4 linked regions of the Homo sapiens genome follow. The protein of the gene in region 3 purifies or fractionates together with the protein of the main gene of each other region. This does not show direct contact. Each region holds a gene or a part of one and is shown on either strand. Other genes may lie near its edges.

Region 1 (3,500 bases), on a different chromosome or scaffold from region 3:
AACTCAATTGAAATGGGAAAAAGACACCATGTATATCAGCTTACAATGATACTAAGTTTGTTTGTCAATACTACTGCTAATACTAATAATACCATTTTTACTACTCCTGCTAAGACCTCACCTTTAACAAGTGCTTATTAAGTGCCAGGTATTGTTGTAAGTACATGTATTAACACAATTATTTCTCATAATAAATAGAATGTTTAGCGGGTGAAATGTTAGAATGATTGTTTTTATTTTGTTAAGTAAGATACATGGGAAATGTAGTATGCTTTATTAACCCACCCTATATATAATATCTATCTATATATATATATCACTAGAATTTGTAAATTTGAGAATTTAGTTCTTACTTCAAAAATCTAAGACCTCTCTGTAGCAACCTGTATATACAGCCCAACTGTATAGCTGTGTTATAGATACTCAGTATCTAAGTTAACTATCTATATACATCGTAGGTAATTTTCCAAAGCATATGAATGAGGTTTTGATCATTTGGCAAGGAAAAGCAGTTGTGACACCCTAGAGATATGAAATAGTGTATGATTTGTAACTCTTAAAACCTAGTTTAATTCAGTACTATTTTCTTGAATTTGCATTGTTTTCTCTTAATTTGATTGAAATGCTATAGTGTGTAATGCCCATATGCTTTTTAATAATTAGATATTTTCATTTTATGACTATAATTTATATATTTATTAATTATTCTCTTAGTGAACTATTTAATGAATTTACACTATGTATTTGACATATATCCCTCTTAATATTAAACATTTTAAATCTTCTAAAAGAAAAAAAATTCCCGGCCGGGTGTGGTGGCTCACGCCTGTAATCCCAGCACTTTGGGAGGCCAAGGTGGGTGGATCACGAGGTCAGGAGATCGAGATCATCCTGGCTAACACAGTGAAACGCCATCTCTACTAAAAATACAAAAAATTAGCCGGGCGTGGTAGCGGGCACCTGTAGTCCCAGCTACTCGGGAAGCTGAGGCAGGAGAATGGTGTGAACCCAGGAGGTGGAGCTGGCAGTGAGCCAAGATTGCGCCACTGCACTCTAGCCTGGGCGACACAGCGAGACTCCGTCTCAAAAAAAAAAAAAAAAAAAAAAGAAAAAGACTTACCTGCCATCTGGGGCCCTTGCCCCTTAAAGAGTAAAACTCAGGCTGTGTCTCCATGGAATTCTGTTAGTTAATCAAAGGTTTAGGTTTATGTAATACCTATGGTTCTTGCTTCTGTATCTAGACATGTGGTTTCTATAGTCTATTGACATATGCCAGGAATGTTGCAAGATTTAGTAGATTGGACTGAAGAGTAGAGAAAGAGATTTGACACATCTTGGGCATGTGGCTTTCTACCTTCTCATCAGCTCTCTTTTTTCCTCTTCTCTCCCTATCTCTATTTGCTCCCTTGCTCTAAATTTTACTCCTTAAATTGTATAATAATATGAATCATTCCTCAGCTGCCATCCTTACATTTTTATTCACAAAAACATTGAGGTATACAGCAGATGAATTTTGGTTTCCCAAATTTGTTGGTTTAAACCTTTTCAGGAGGCAGCTGGGATTATAAATTACAAGTTCTTTTTAAATTAAATGTTTGATATTCATATTGAATTATTTCCCAAATTAATGTATGTAGATTCTAATTCATGTTATTATTTCCAGTATTGTAGGTATTCAAAACAAAACAAAACATGTGTTTCTGATTAATAGTTTAGTAGGAATTCGGAAGAATAAACCAAAATTTATTATTTTGCATGATGTGTATTTATTTTTATTTATTTATTTTTTTGAGATGGAGTCTTGCTCTGTCGCCCAGGCTGGAGTGCAGTGGCATGATCTTGGCTCACTGCAACCTCCGCCTCCCGGGTTCAAGCGATTCTCCTGTGTCAGCCTCTTGATTAGCTGGGATTATAGGTGCGTGCCACCATGCCTGGCTAACTTTTTTTGGTATTATTAGTAGAGATGGGATTTCACCATGTTGGTCAGGCTGGTCTCAAACTCCTGACCTTGTGATCCGCCCGCCTCGGCTTCCCAAAGTGCTGGGATTACAGGCATGAGCCACTGCGCCGGGCCCGATGTGTGTTTATTTATTTCACTTTTGTGCATGTAATAGAAAGGGCCCGGCTGGTCTTCACAAGATAGAGGTGAAATAGGTTTTCTTTTTTCATATAAAGAATAGTTGTTCCATAAATTTGCTTTCTAAAATAGTTAAAGGAAAGTTCAGTGTTGCCAGGACTAGCTTACTGTAATCACAAGTCATTTTTTAAAGTCATGGAAAACTGGAAACATACTTAAGTAATTTGAGACTTAATTACAGGAAAGCTTTGCCTGTTTACAAACATCTCAGTTCATCTTCATTCATTTTTTACAAATTCAACAAATATTCATTGAATATCTTAAATGCACCAGGGGCTGTTGTTCACCCAGTGACAATGAAAATATTTGGTTTCATTTAATATAGGTTCCGAAATACTTTAGTTAAACTTAAATATAATTAAATAACTAAAGTAGTTTCCCTCTGTTGGATGTAAGCAAGGCATTTTTAAAAGTCATTTTTATGTATTCATTAGCATTTTCAATTACTTTTTCCTTCTTTGTTACTCTTTTTAAGAAATATGATTGAAAATTAGCAATATACTTACTTAAGAAAAGATGTTGGGAAAGAAGATCCTTATTTTATTTTTATTAACTACAGGTTTGTTGAATGAGCTTTCTTGTGTTATATGTCATACTAAGCCCAAAATACATAATTCTGTGGTAATTTAAAAATAAATAATTATATAGGTTTCTCTCTCTCACACACACTCTCTCTGTCTTTAGAAAGATCATTGCTCCTCTTGTAACTCGTCATGGAAAGCTGTGGTCCAATTTCTGGGGAGCATTGAGTCCTGATGGATACTATGCACGATCTGAAGATTATGTGGATATTGTTCAAGGGAATAGAGTGTAAGTTACTTGGTTTAATATTTTAATGTGAAATACCATAATCTAAAGATGTAGTCTTGTTAGTATTACTTGAAATTTTTTTTGCATTCATCTCTTTTCTTTATAGTTAATGGGAATTTGAGAACCCAAGACCACTTGGAATCCTGAAATACTAGTATAAAACTAATATCTTAAAAAAATGTTTTTAAAGTCCCAAATCTTCAAAGGAACAAGCTCATTGCTGTGGGGAATACTAAGAGATAATATATGTTTACCATACTCACATTATGGTTGATAGAAGAGTAATACTCTTTATTTAAAAGCTTGGAAAGGGGATTTAGTTTACTAACTTTTTAATGGTTATAATTAAGGGTTGTTTTGATAGGTTTTAAAATTTATAATTAAGCCAACAGTAACACTAACAGCCAGAACATTCCAGTATTCCTGATTGCATGAGTTTTTTTGTGTGAAATAGCTATTATTCTGCTTTAAATACAAGTTTTTTTTACCAATATTAGATTTTCACTTCTAGAGATTGAAAAGAATATATTTGCTGAAAAGTGTGTGCATGATT
Region 2 (3,500 bases), on a different chromosome or scaffold from region 3:
TTGCTTGAGCCCGGAAGTTGAGGCTGCAGTGAGCTGAGATTGTGCCACTGTACTCCAACCTGGGAGACAAAGAAAGGCCCAGTCTCAAGAAAAAAAAAATGGCCAGGCGTGATAGCTCACATCTGTAATTCCAGCACCTTGGGAGGCCAAGATGGGAGGATCGCTTGAGCCGAGGAGTTAAAGACCAGCCTAGGCAACATAGTCTCTATAAAAGAAAAAAAAAGAGTGAGAATCTTGAGTCAGGTGTGGTGGTTTGTGCCTGTAGCCCCCAGCTGCTCAGGAGGCTGAGGCGGGAGGATCACTTGAGCCCAAGAGTTTGAGGCCAGCCTGGGCAACAGAGTGATACCCTGTCAATCAGGCAATCAATCAACCAACCAATCAATAAGAGTAAGACTCTTTCCAGAGCTAATGCACTGTGTGTTGACTGAGTACCTGCTAAACACTAAGTATTTGTTAAGCACCTACCACAGTCCGATACCATCAGGCACAATGCTATGAGACAGCTACAACTGTAGGGCAGAGACCAGAGGCAGGGAGACCAAATCAGAGAAGACTGCCAGAGACTAGGCATGGGGCAGGAGACAGAGGAACTGTCCATCCCTCTGGGCTCAAGCAGTCCGCCCACCACGGCCTCCCAAAGTTTTCGAATTAAAGGTGTGAGCCACTGTGCCCAGCCTAAAATCTTTTATTTAGCCACAAATATCTAAAACTTCTGTAGGTCAAATTTATCATAAACAAAGGTGAAAGGCAAAAAGACTAGGAAAAAAATGTTAACTTATAATAGCTTTAAAGTGTTCACAGCAAGTTGAATTAGACCAACATATACATACATACATAAATACATACACACACACACACACACACACACACACACACACACACACACATATATGAGATTCCCAAACAAAACAATCTATTCTGCTAGGATGGTTGTTTCTACAAAACTTATCCTGAAAAATTGTAGCATAAAAGATATTGTTGACCAGGTGCGGTGACTCATGCCTATAATCCCAGCACTTTGGGTGGCAGAGGCAGGCGATCACCTGAATCGGGAGTTCGAGACCAGCCTGACCAACATGGAGAAACCCCGTCTCTACTGAAAATACAAAATTAGCCAGGCGTGGTGGTGCATGCCTGTAATCCCAGCGACTCAGGAGGCTAAGGCAGGAGAATCGCTTGAACTTGGGAGGACGAGGCTGCAGTGAGCCAAGACTGCGCATTGCACTCCAGCCTGAGCAACAAGAGTGAAACTCCGTCTCAAAAAACAAACAAACAAACGAAAAAGCTATTGTTAGCAAAAGGTAACTGAGAAACTAGAGAGAGTCAAACTACAAACTACAATCCGTTACTTGTATGAGTGTTAAAGTCTAAACATCACTGAGCAGGCTGGTGTTTACCCTGCCGCCCCATCACATAAGTCAGAGCCATAGCTACTCTCCCCAGTCACCCCCAGCCCTAAAACTAGCCCCTCCACAAGGCTTCACACACCTCTTTGTACCCAATTTACCATTAAGCATCCTGATAAGCCATGAAGTAAAAACTAAGCTATGAAAGAAACTAATAATTAAAAGGAAATTAGAGCATGTGCATAGGAATCACCTCTGGAAGGAAAAAAAAAAAAAAAGCTTAAAGATAAATTCATGATTAGGAGAAAGTTGCCAAAAACTAGGCATACTTATTCCATCTATACTTACTTTCTAAAAGACTAGTTAATTCATGTTTCAACAGAAGTCTACCAATGACAAGTCAAACCATGTATAATCTCACAGCCACTCTTGATTCGAGCTGCCAAATTAGCAAAACATAATACTTGGAGTTTGGCTTACTTCCCTTTAAACTTGGCACTACCCAGTAAATCCAGTATGTTCAGGAATTTGCAATTGCTAAACAAAATCCAGTACTCCGGTTTGCCAAAGACTCACTGACTATTTTTTCTTCCCACGGTTCAGTCTAGAATACAGATTTTTAACCCAAGATCCAGGGACAGTCTGCAGAGAGTCCAAAATCTCCTGAAATAAAATGCAGAATTACATGCAGACGTATATTTTTCCAAGAAGAAGGTCCATAACTTTCATCAGACTTTATCTCAAAGGGGTGGGTACCAACAATCAAAACAAAAGTGATGTAAGAATCATCCAACTGGAGGTAGCTGCTAGCAAAAATGTCTAACTGTACTATATGTAACTTCCCCAAAATACTACTGCTAAGTCTAAAACACTCATGTATGATTTCTTTCTTGGACTCTTTATGCTTTACTCAGTATGAATAAATTGTTTGATCAACTAAAAAATTAGAACATTAATTTTTGCCTATCAAATTAGCAGTAAAACACTCAGGCAATACTTAGTGGTGCTCTAAACCGTAACAACTTTCTAGGGCCAGGCAAGGTGGCTCACGCCTATAATCCCAGCGCTTTGGGAGGCCAAGGCAGATCACTTGAGCCCAGGAGTTAAAGATCAACCTGGGCAACATAGGGAGACCCCATCTCTATAAAAAATATGAATATTAGCCAGGTGTGGCGATGCGTACCTGTAGTATCTGGTACTTAGGAGACTAAGACTAAGGTGGAAAGATCTCTTGAGCCCTGAGTTCTGGGCTGCAGTGAGCCACGATCTGTGCCACCAGCACTCCAGCCTGGGCTACAAAGCGCTAAAAAAAAAAAAAAAAAAAAAAAAAAAAAAAAAAAAAGGAATATCAGAGATTATCTAAATTCAACATTCTTATTTTATATAAAAGTTATCTGCACAGCTAATTTCCAACAGAAATGGGATGAAAAATTCATTTACCTGTTAAGTTTAGGCAGTTTTATTAAAGAATAACTGGGGACAAAATAATATCATTCAAAACATTACTAATACTCATTCTTAAGGTTTTTGTTTCTTTTCACTTACAGATGGAGTCTCAGCTATGTTGCCCAGGTTGGCCTCGAACACCTGGGCTCAAGGGATCCTTCTGCCTCAGCCTCAGGAAGAGGTGGGACTACAGGCACACACCCCTGAGTCAGCTATTCTTAAGGTTTTTAAGATGAATTCTGGATATTTAATTCAACTGGGAAAGGTCAGAAACTGGATGAGCCATGATGTATCAAAATCCTGTAAACGCATTTCTATTAAAGAACCTTCTGTGTTCAAGTTACTGTGCTTGGCACTGTATGAGAAATCTTAGAGCAGAATTAAGATGGACTTAAAAATAGCCAACATCAATAACAGCCTCTTCCAAAAAGGTTTCAAAACCGGGAGAATCAAGCGGAAAATCCCGAGTTTGGAGACCGGGATTTTAAATTCTGTCTGTGGTTCTGAAGAGTAACTCTGGGTGATTCTGTCAATCTTTCTGAGCTTCAGTCTCCCCATTTGTAAAAGGAGGTTGAAGTGTCACTGAGGATGAAATGGGTTAATGTTACTGTGCCAAATCCAGCACAAAATGGCCACTCAGTTCCCTTTTGCCCTTAAAACTAGCCAGTTTCTGAAATATCAGAATCAACAGTGCCATGATTTATTTTT
Region 3 (4,199 bases):
AAAGACTATTTCTACAGGGAGAAAGCTCCAATATCAGATATCTGCAAGAGGCTCAGGAATCAAACACATAGGCCGGCCGGGCGCGGTGGCTCACGCCTGTAATCCCAGCACTTTGGGAGGCAGAGGCGGATGCATCACCTGAGGACAGGAGTTGGAGACCAGCCTGGCCAACATGGTGAAACCCTGTCTTTACTAAAAACACAAAATTAGCCAGGCGTGGTGGCGTGCACCTGTAATCCCAGCAACTAGGGAGGCTGAGGCAGGAGAACCACTTGAACCCGAGAGGCAGAGGTTGCAGTGAGCTGAGATTGTGCCGGTGCACTTCAGCCTGCGTGACAGAGCGAGACTCCATCTCAGAAAAAAAATAAAATAATAAAATAAATTTTAAAAAATAATCAAACAGAGGCCCAAGAACCAAACAGAGGTTGGGCATGGTGGCTCACACTTGTAATCCCAGCACTTTAGGAGGCCGAGGTGGGTGGATGGTCACTCGAAGCCAAGAGTTTGAGACCAGCCTGGCCAACATGGCAAAACCCTGTCTCTAATTAAAAAAAAAAAAAAAATGAGGCCGGGCGCGGTGGCTCACGCCTGTAATCCCAGCACTTTGGGAGGCTGAGGCAGGCGGATCACGAGTTCAGGAGATGGAGACCATCCTGGCCAACATGGTGAAACCCCATCTCTACTAAAAATACAAAAAAATTAGCTGGGCGTGGTGGCACATGCCTGTAATCCCAGCTACTCGGGAGGCTGAGGCAGGAGAATAGCTTGAACCAGGCAGTTAGAGGTTGCACTGGGCCGAGATGGCGCCACTGCACTCCAGCCTGGCGACAGAGCGAGACTCTGTCTCAAAAAAAAAAAAAAAAAAAAAAAAGAATCCAACAGAAAAAGGGTCTTCTTTTATATGATAAAGGACGGGCAAGCAGAAATAAGCAGAATCTTTGGATAGGAACCTGGACGAGCAAGGGAAAATGAGCAGTGTAGCCCAACAGGACAGCATCCTACTGTGGTCAGCCGGTTCTCAAAAGAAACTGACCAGAGGGAGGCATATTCCACTGCTTTAGTGCCTGCCTGGTCAGATCTGGGGGTAAGCAAGAGTTGAGGGGCCCATAAGGGAAGAGAGAAGTCCGAATAAAGTTTGGTCAAGACAAAGCAGAAGCTAAGACATGAGCAATTGGGAACAGTTGGTCAGTTTTTACCAAATGAAAGCACATAGTGTCTTTGATAGCAATAGGTTGTAGGTTTAAGGAACACACATCATTCTGGAGGGTAACGAGTTAATCTACAAACCACTGAAACAGAGAGCCAACCACATTTTGAGACAGAAAATATGGAACTACTTCACTCCACTTGTTGCTAGTCAAAGAAAATAAAGTAATAATCCATCCCAGCAGTGGAGGGAAACGAAAGGGCAAAAGGGGGAAGAAAAAAAAAAAAGGAGAAATGCAATTTCCCATACCCATTCAAGCTATCTTTGGGTCCTGAACCACTAATGTTCCTCCTACCCCAGTTTCCAACCTAGCCAAACAGGGCCCCACCTAACAAATGCAAAAATTTACTAAATTTGCAAATCCCAACCACCAAAGAATCACCTTCCTATTGGACACCTAGAGGATATAAGGCAGGAGTCAAATCTCACACCCACCACAAAAAGTTGAGTAGAATTCACAAGGATGGATGCTTGGATACGAATCAGTAAAATATGATTAAAACTCAACCTAAACACTTCTCCAGGGGATGTGGCCAAACTGTGGCATGCTGGGGATTCAGTGGTCAACTGAACAACCCCAAGGTTCAGATTTTGGAGGGGAACCTGCTTTTAAAGAGCAAAACATGTTCCTTACCATGTTCTGCAAGTGCAGTCAACACACGCCTATCGGGCGCTGCTGGGATGCCAAGGAAGGTGATGGGAATTCAGAGATTAACCAAGCCAGTTCCTTCCCCTTCAGGAAAAGCCTCAATTCAGGGAGGAAACCGAAACCTAAAAGCCCCAGAACATCCTCTGATGTGGCAAGTGTTCAAGGAGCTGCGGTTAGCGCGGAGGGGTCCCGCGAGCCTGGATGACAGCAAGCCGCCCACCAAGGTCTGGGGAAAAATCTCCTTCTAACTAAAAAAAAGGGACCCGAGTCTCGCTTGTCCCGCGCCGGGGTGGCAAGTTAGTGAAGAAACCCACGAGAGTGAGATCCCAATCTACGACTGCCCCTCCCAGGTCCTCAATCCCGGGAGCCTGCTCCCATCCTACGAATCGCCTATCCCAGGCGACCCCATGTCTTCTTCCTCCGCCTCGGGGAGTCAGTCCCGGGAGCCCCATGCCGCAGGCCCTCCTGGGAACCCCCGCCGCAGGGCTCCCTCCCCCGCCTCGGGTCTTCCTTTCCTCGGCGCCCCCAGCGCAGGTCCGCCCTCCCGGGTGCCTCCCGCCGCAGGGCTCGCTCCTCGGCCTCGGTCCTCTCGTGGGGCCCCCTCCCTCAGGGCGCCTGGCCCGCGCCCCAGGTCGCCGCCCTTCGCCCCTCAGCCCCTCCGGAGCCGCTACCTCGGATGTTCTTCAGCAGCACCGGCTCTTCAAAGCCACCGCGCCTGAGGAAGGAGCACACCTGCTCCGGACCCCATGTCTTGTAGTCGGGATGGAGTTCCAGGCCCGGGGACCAGTCTGCCTCTGCGGAAGGGGTGTTTGAGGGGGTTCTCGGGCTGTCATCGCAACGGGGACGCTTGGAGGGCTGCTCGGAATCGGCTCGCTGCATGGCTACACCTGGCGTCCGGCACAGCAGTCAAGAACCTCGGCGCCGGACCCGCGCGCAGGCGCACTGACAGCAGGGCCCTGGCGGGGAGTCCAAGGAGTATTGGCAGCCTATTGGCCTCCTGCGCAGGCTCACTGACAGTTGAGCCCTTCGGGCAGGGCAGCCTAGCGGCTCTTGCCTTGGGCTCCCTGCGCAGGCGCAATGGCAGTCCAGTCGTCCTCAAATCAATCCCGCCAGGGCGCTGGACGTGAACGCGAAAGGGCGTGGCTAGAAGCAGAACTGAGGGCAGTGCTGGTGGAAAGGGGGAGGAAAGAGCGCGCCCGGCACCGCACCCCCAATTAGGGGCTCGTCTAGTGAATTGGGGGTATTCTCCTTCGAATGAGTACACTACCCGCCGCACCTTGGCCGGGTTTCAGATGCCCCAAACTTAAAAGAAGCCTAAAAGGCCGTCAGGCTGCCAGCACCTTCCCAGTGAAGAGGAAAACAGTCAAGGTGCTGAACTGGAAGAACCCGGAATGATTTCAAATGTGACTTGAGGGTGTCTTCATTCCACAGTATTGCTGGTCAACTAGAGGGCCCTGGGATACCTGTTGTCTGGTGTCCACACAGGAGGGGACTTCAGACTTCTTTCCAACTAGAGACAGAGCCCTCCATCCCAACTGCATTCCCAGAGGAAGGAAAGTGGCCAGTCTGATTACTTAAAATTTAACTTCTGAGGACTTTTACTGCCTGGTTGTAACAGCATGTGAAAATGGCAGGCATTTTCCCATCACTTAACCCCTCTGCGGCAGGGCTCAAACTTCCCTATAAATACTGGTCCATGCAATTGCCTGGTAAAAGGACATATCACTATTACTGTTAATAAAGCCAACACACCTTCCCAGCAACCAAGGCATAGACCTGTTTAGGGGGTCAAGGACGAATGAGGCGGAATAGCTTATCATCAAGCAGTATGAACTAGTGGTCTACTGGTGAGCCAAAATATTATTTGCAAACAGAGCTTTACTGTGTGCCAGGCACGGTTCTAAGGGCTTTACAAATATAAAATAATTTTATATTTATACATAATACTAAATGAATTAAGTACATTCATTAAATTATTTAAATATTAAATAATTTTTATAACTTCTAAGGGTTTTACAAATATTGTAAAGTTCTAAGGGCTCTACACATATTACTTCACTTAATTATCACAATTACCTTAGGATGTAGGAAAAAGTAATTTGCCGCAGGTCTTCTTTTTTTTTTTTGAGACGGAGTCTTGCTCTGTTTCCCAAGCTGGAGTGCAGTGGCGTGATCTCAGCTCACTGCAACCTCTGCCTCCCAGGTTCAAGTGATTCTCATGCCTCAGACTCCCAAGTAGCTGGGACTACAGGCGCCTGCCACCACACCTGGCTAATTTTTGTATTTTTAGTAGAGACAGGATTTCACCATGTTGGCCAGGCTGGTCTTGAACTCCTGACCTCA
Region 4 (3,500 bases), on a different chromosome or scaffold from region 3:
CAGCCCTGAAGAGGACACCATTCCATTATAGGATGCACTCACACACCCGCACTCATTCAGACTGGAACCACTGAGACGTTCCAAGTAACCTGACAGGTGCAGCTTTGGAATTGGGAAGAAACTGAAGTACCAGAGAAAACCCATGTAGACGTTAAAGGGAAAGTGCAAACTCCACAAAGACAGTGGCCCCAGCTGGGAATCATTTCTATTTTTCATCAATATTAATGAAATGACATTACTTGAGAACCTGCAGCATCCCTAAATGCACAGATGTTCCTATATTCTAAATGCTCTGATTGAAAATAGAAACATGGGCCAGACGCGGTGGCTCACGCCTGTAATCCCAGCACTTTGGGAGGCCGAGGTGGGCAGATCATGAGGTCAGGAGTTCAAGACCAGCCTAATGAACATGGTGAAACCCCATCTCTACTAAAATACAAAAAAATTAGCTGTGGCGTGTGCCTGTAATCCCAGCTACTTGGGAGGCTGAGGCAGGAGAATTGCTTGAACTCGGGGGATGAAGGTTGCGGTGAGCTGAGATCGCACATTGCACTCCAGCCTGGGCAACAGAGCGAGACTCCACCTCAAAAAAAAAAAAAGAAAATAGAAACGTGCTTAAACACATACATGTATTCACACACACACTCTAAGACTCCTCCCTACCTATCCCTGTCCCAGGAAAACAGCCCCCAGCCTCAGCACTGTCCAACCAGACATTCCCCCTCTCCTGGCTGCTGCTCCACCCCTCCAGATGGCTCACTCACCACCAGGGTACTCAGGCCCTCCCAAAGTAGTAGCCCCTGCATCACTCCCCTCTTCCTTAACCATCGCAAGGCCTAATCTTAGAGGGATCCACGCCCACCTTGGCACCATACCTCTCCAGTTAGCAGCTTCAGAAGAGTTGACTTCCCTGCTCCATTGGGCCCTACCAGAGCCACTCGTGTGTCAAGGTCAATTCCAAATTCTAGATTATTGTAGATGCAAGGCTGAGGTGGGGATGAGAGAGATGTGGACACAAGGCTAGAATACAGATCTGCTATGACCAGCAGACCAAGCCCGCTGAATTCCCAGTCACCAAGAGAGGAGGAAGGGAGAGTAGCGGGAGGAAGCACTCATAGCAGACCCCGCCTCGCCCACTGCCTCCGCCCACCAACCCAGCTGAGTAGTCTTCTTTCCATATACACGAAGAAAGGCCCGCGAGCAGCCTTGGATGAGGCACCCCAGCTGCCACACCTGAAAATCCCCCAGAGCACGTGGGCTAGCAGGTGTGGTCAGCACAGAACAGGAGCAACTCCCATGAGCTGCCACTCACCCTAAGATACACCCCAGCCACCCATGCCCTGCCCTGAACTTACCCCATCTTTTGTATACTTGAAGCTCACATTTTGCACCATAATGACAGGTGGAGGGATCTTGCCACATGGTGGGAAATAAAATGACAGTGTCTAGGAAGAAAAGAGGGCATTTATCAAGTTGGCTCCTTTCTTATCCACCTCACCTTAGGCCACCCAACCCCACCCAATCACACCCCACCCAATCACACCCCACCTTATCGCTCACGACCCTCTCTGTCAGTCCTGATGCCATCATTTTCTGTAGCGTCTTCTCCTTGCTCTGGGCCTGCCGGGCCAGCTTGGCACTGCCATGACCAAACCTCGCAATGTAGTTCTAAAAAAGACCAAAGAGAGCTTGGAGTATGTGCAGGCGCTCAACAATTCATCTTCAATCCAGGGTAAAAATGTTGATCGTAACTTCTTCCCGACATCCTCCATCACTACCGCTTCTCGAAATGCCCTCATCCGAGCCCCCTGCTTCTTTCAGACAGGAGGCCATGAGCCTGACTCTGCAGTCTCCCTACCTTCATGTGTGCAATCTGATCTTGCTCCCAGTGAAACCTCTTCATCTGGTTCTCCTCCAGCTCTAGCCGCGTCTTCACGTACTGATCATAATTACCCTGCATGGAAATGTGCCAGGTAAGGCAGGCAGCTTTAACCTGGGTTTCAATCCTGGATTCTCACTCAGAGTTTAGGGGGATGAGGGATGGCACTAACTTGGCCCTGGCTCTAAGGCTGTGCAGTAAGAAGAGAGGACGTGCATTACAGAAGCATATCCTAACATCAAATCGGAGTCTTTTCAATTCTATGCCCCTCGCTCAGCCCAGCCAGGGCCAGGCTCCAGCGCAAATCCTTAGGTTAGCTAGAAAGACACCTGTGGCACTGGGAATAGTCCTGAAAATCACGGTCATACGGACGTCACGAGGCTCAGAGCCTTCCAATACCACCTCCTATTCCTTCCCCGTTCCCTAGAGGCTGAAGCCCCACAAAAGACTGCAAGAGCTGTCTCCAGAGGGGAAAACAGACCATTCAGATTTAGAAGCTGACAAACCCTGCATAAGTGGACTACCATGGTTTCTATCTGCAAACAAAAACTGGACTCAAGCTAAATATCCACCAGAAAGGGCCTAACAAGTTACAGGATAAACACATAACGAAATACTATGCAGTGACTGAAAAGATTGTGATTGATTTATATATACTCACATGGAAAGCAGTCCAAAATATACTAAATTTAAAAAAGCAACCTACAGAATGATTATTAAAATTGTAACTGTGGCCAGGTGCAGTGGCTCACACCTGTAATTCCAGCACTTTGGGAGGCTGAGGTGGGTGGATCACTTGAGGCCAGGAGTTTGACAGCAGCCTAGCCAACATGGCGAAACCCCGTCTCTACTAAAAATATAAAAATTAGCTGGGTATGGTGGCATGTGCCTGTGGTCTCAGCTACTTGGGAGGGTGAGGTGGGAGGATCGCTTGAACCTGGGAGGCAGAAGTTGCAGTGAGCCAATATCACGCCACTGGACTCCAGCCTGGGTGACAGAGACAGACCCCATCTCGAGAAAAAAGAGGCCGGGTGCGGTGGCTCACGCCTGTAATCCCAGCACTTTGGGAGGCCGAGGCAGGCGGATCATGAGGTCAAGAGAGGGAGACCATCCTGGCCAATATGGTGAACCCCATCTCTACTAAAAATACAAAAATTAGCTGGGTGTGGTGGCATGCGCCTGTAGTCCCAGCTACTCAGGAAGCCGAGGCAGGAGAGTCCCTTGAACCTGGGAGGTGGAGGTTGCAGTGAGCCCAGATCGCGCCACTGCACTCCAGCCTGGCGACGGAGCAAGACTCCAGCTCAAAAAAAAAAAAAAAAAAAAGCTGCAATTGTATAAAAAGAAAAAGATTACGTATACATGACATTTTCTACAAATGTGTGCAAGTATACATGAAGTTTCTGGAAGGCTATATTATAAACTAATACTCCTATGACTATGAATGAAGAGGACATCAATCGTTAGTTTCTTACATGCTTTTTGAAATATAAAATGAAAAGGCAAGGCACAACAGTGGGCTATTGAGATCCTGACCCCCATTCTCCTGTGGTCATGGGAGGTGGGGTAAATGTGTAGACTCCAGTGAAGCAGAATTAAGAAGGCATTCAAGAAGGCAGAGGGA

What was found. Proteins that work in one complex are often made in the same cells at the same time.
Region 1: the proteins of SAMHD1 (region 3) and PLOD2 fractionate together in Homo sapiens (co-fractionation; one large-scale study listed by BioGRID). This does not show direct contact.
Region 2: the proteins of SAMHD1 (region 3) and OAT purify together in Homo sapiens (affinity purification with mass spectrometry, with the first as the bait; one large-scale study listed by BioGRID). This does not show direct contact.
Region 4: the proteins of SAMHD1 (region 3) and ABCF2 purify together in Homo sapiens (affinity purification with mass spectrometry, with the first as the bait; one large-scale study listed by BioGRID). This does not show direct contact.

Annotation. Positions count from the first base shown.
Region 1 is NC_000003.12:146,081,185-146,084,684, reverse strand, and holds part of PLOD2 (procollagen-lysine,2-oxoglutarate 5-dioxygenase 2 isoform 1 precursor), read left to right. Parts: intron 1-2,821; coding exon 2,822-2,947; intron 2,948-3,500. UniProt on the Homo sapiens protein: Forms hydroxylysine residues in -Xaa-Lys-Gly- sequences in collagens. These hydroxylysines serve as sites of attachment for carbohydrate units and are essential for the stability of the intermolecular collagen cross-links.
Region 2 is NC_000010.11:124,412,424-124,415,923, forward strand, and holds part of OAT (ornithine aminotransferase, mitochondrial isoform 1 precursor), read right to left. Parts: intron 2,650-3,500; exon of another isoform or gene 2,530-2,649; intron 2,010-2,529; exon of another isoform or gene 1,695-2,009; intron 1-1,694. UniProt on the Homo sapiens protein: Catalyzes the reversible interconversion of L-ornithine and 2-oxoglutarate to L-glutamate semialdehyde and L-glutamate.
Region 3 is NC_000020.11:36,948,909-36,953,107, forward strand, and holds the start of SAMHD1 (deoxynucleoside triphosphate triphosphohydrolase SAMHD1), read right to left. Parts: upstream 2,801-4,199; 5' UTR 2,736-2,800; coding exon 2,528-2,735; intron 1-2,527.
Region 4 is NC_000007.14:151,217,206-151,220,705, forward strand, and holds part of ABCF2 (ATP-binding cassette sub-family F member 2), read right to left. Parts: intron 1,955-3,500; coding exon 1,859-1,954; intron 1,669-1,858; coding exon 1,549-1,668; intron 1,446-1,548; coding exon 1,356-1,445; intron 987-1,355; coding exon 876-986; intron 1-875. Other genes in the region: ABCF2-H2BK1 (ABCF2-H2B protein), read right to left, coding at 876-986, 1,356-1,445, 1,549-1,668, 1,859-1,954.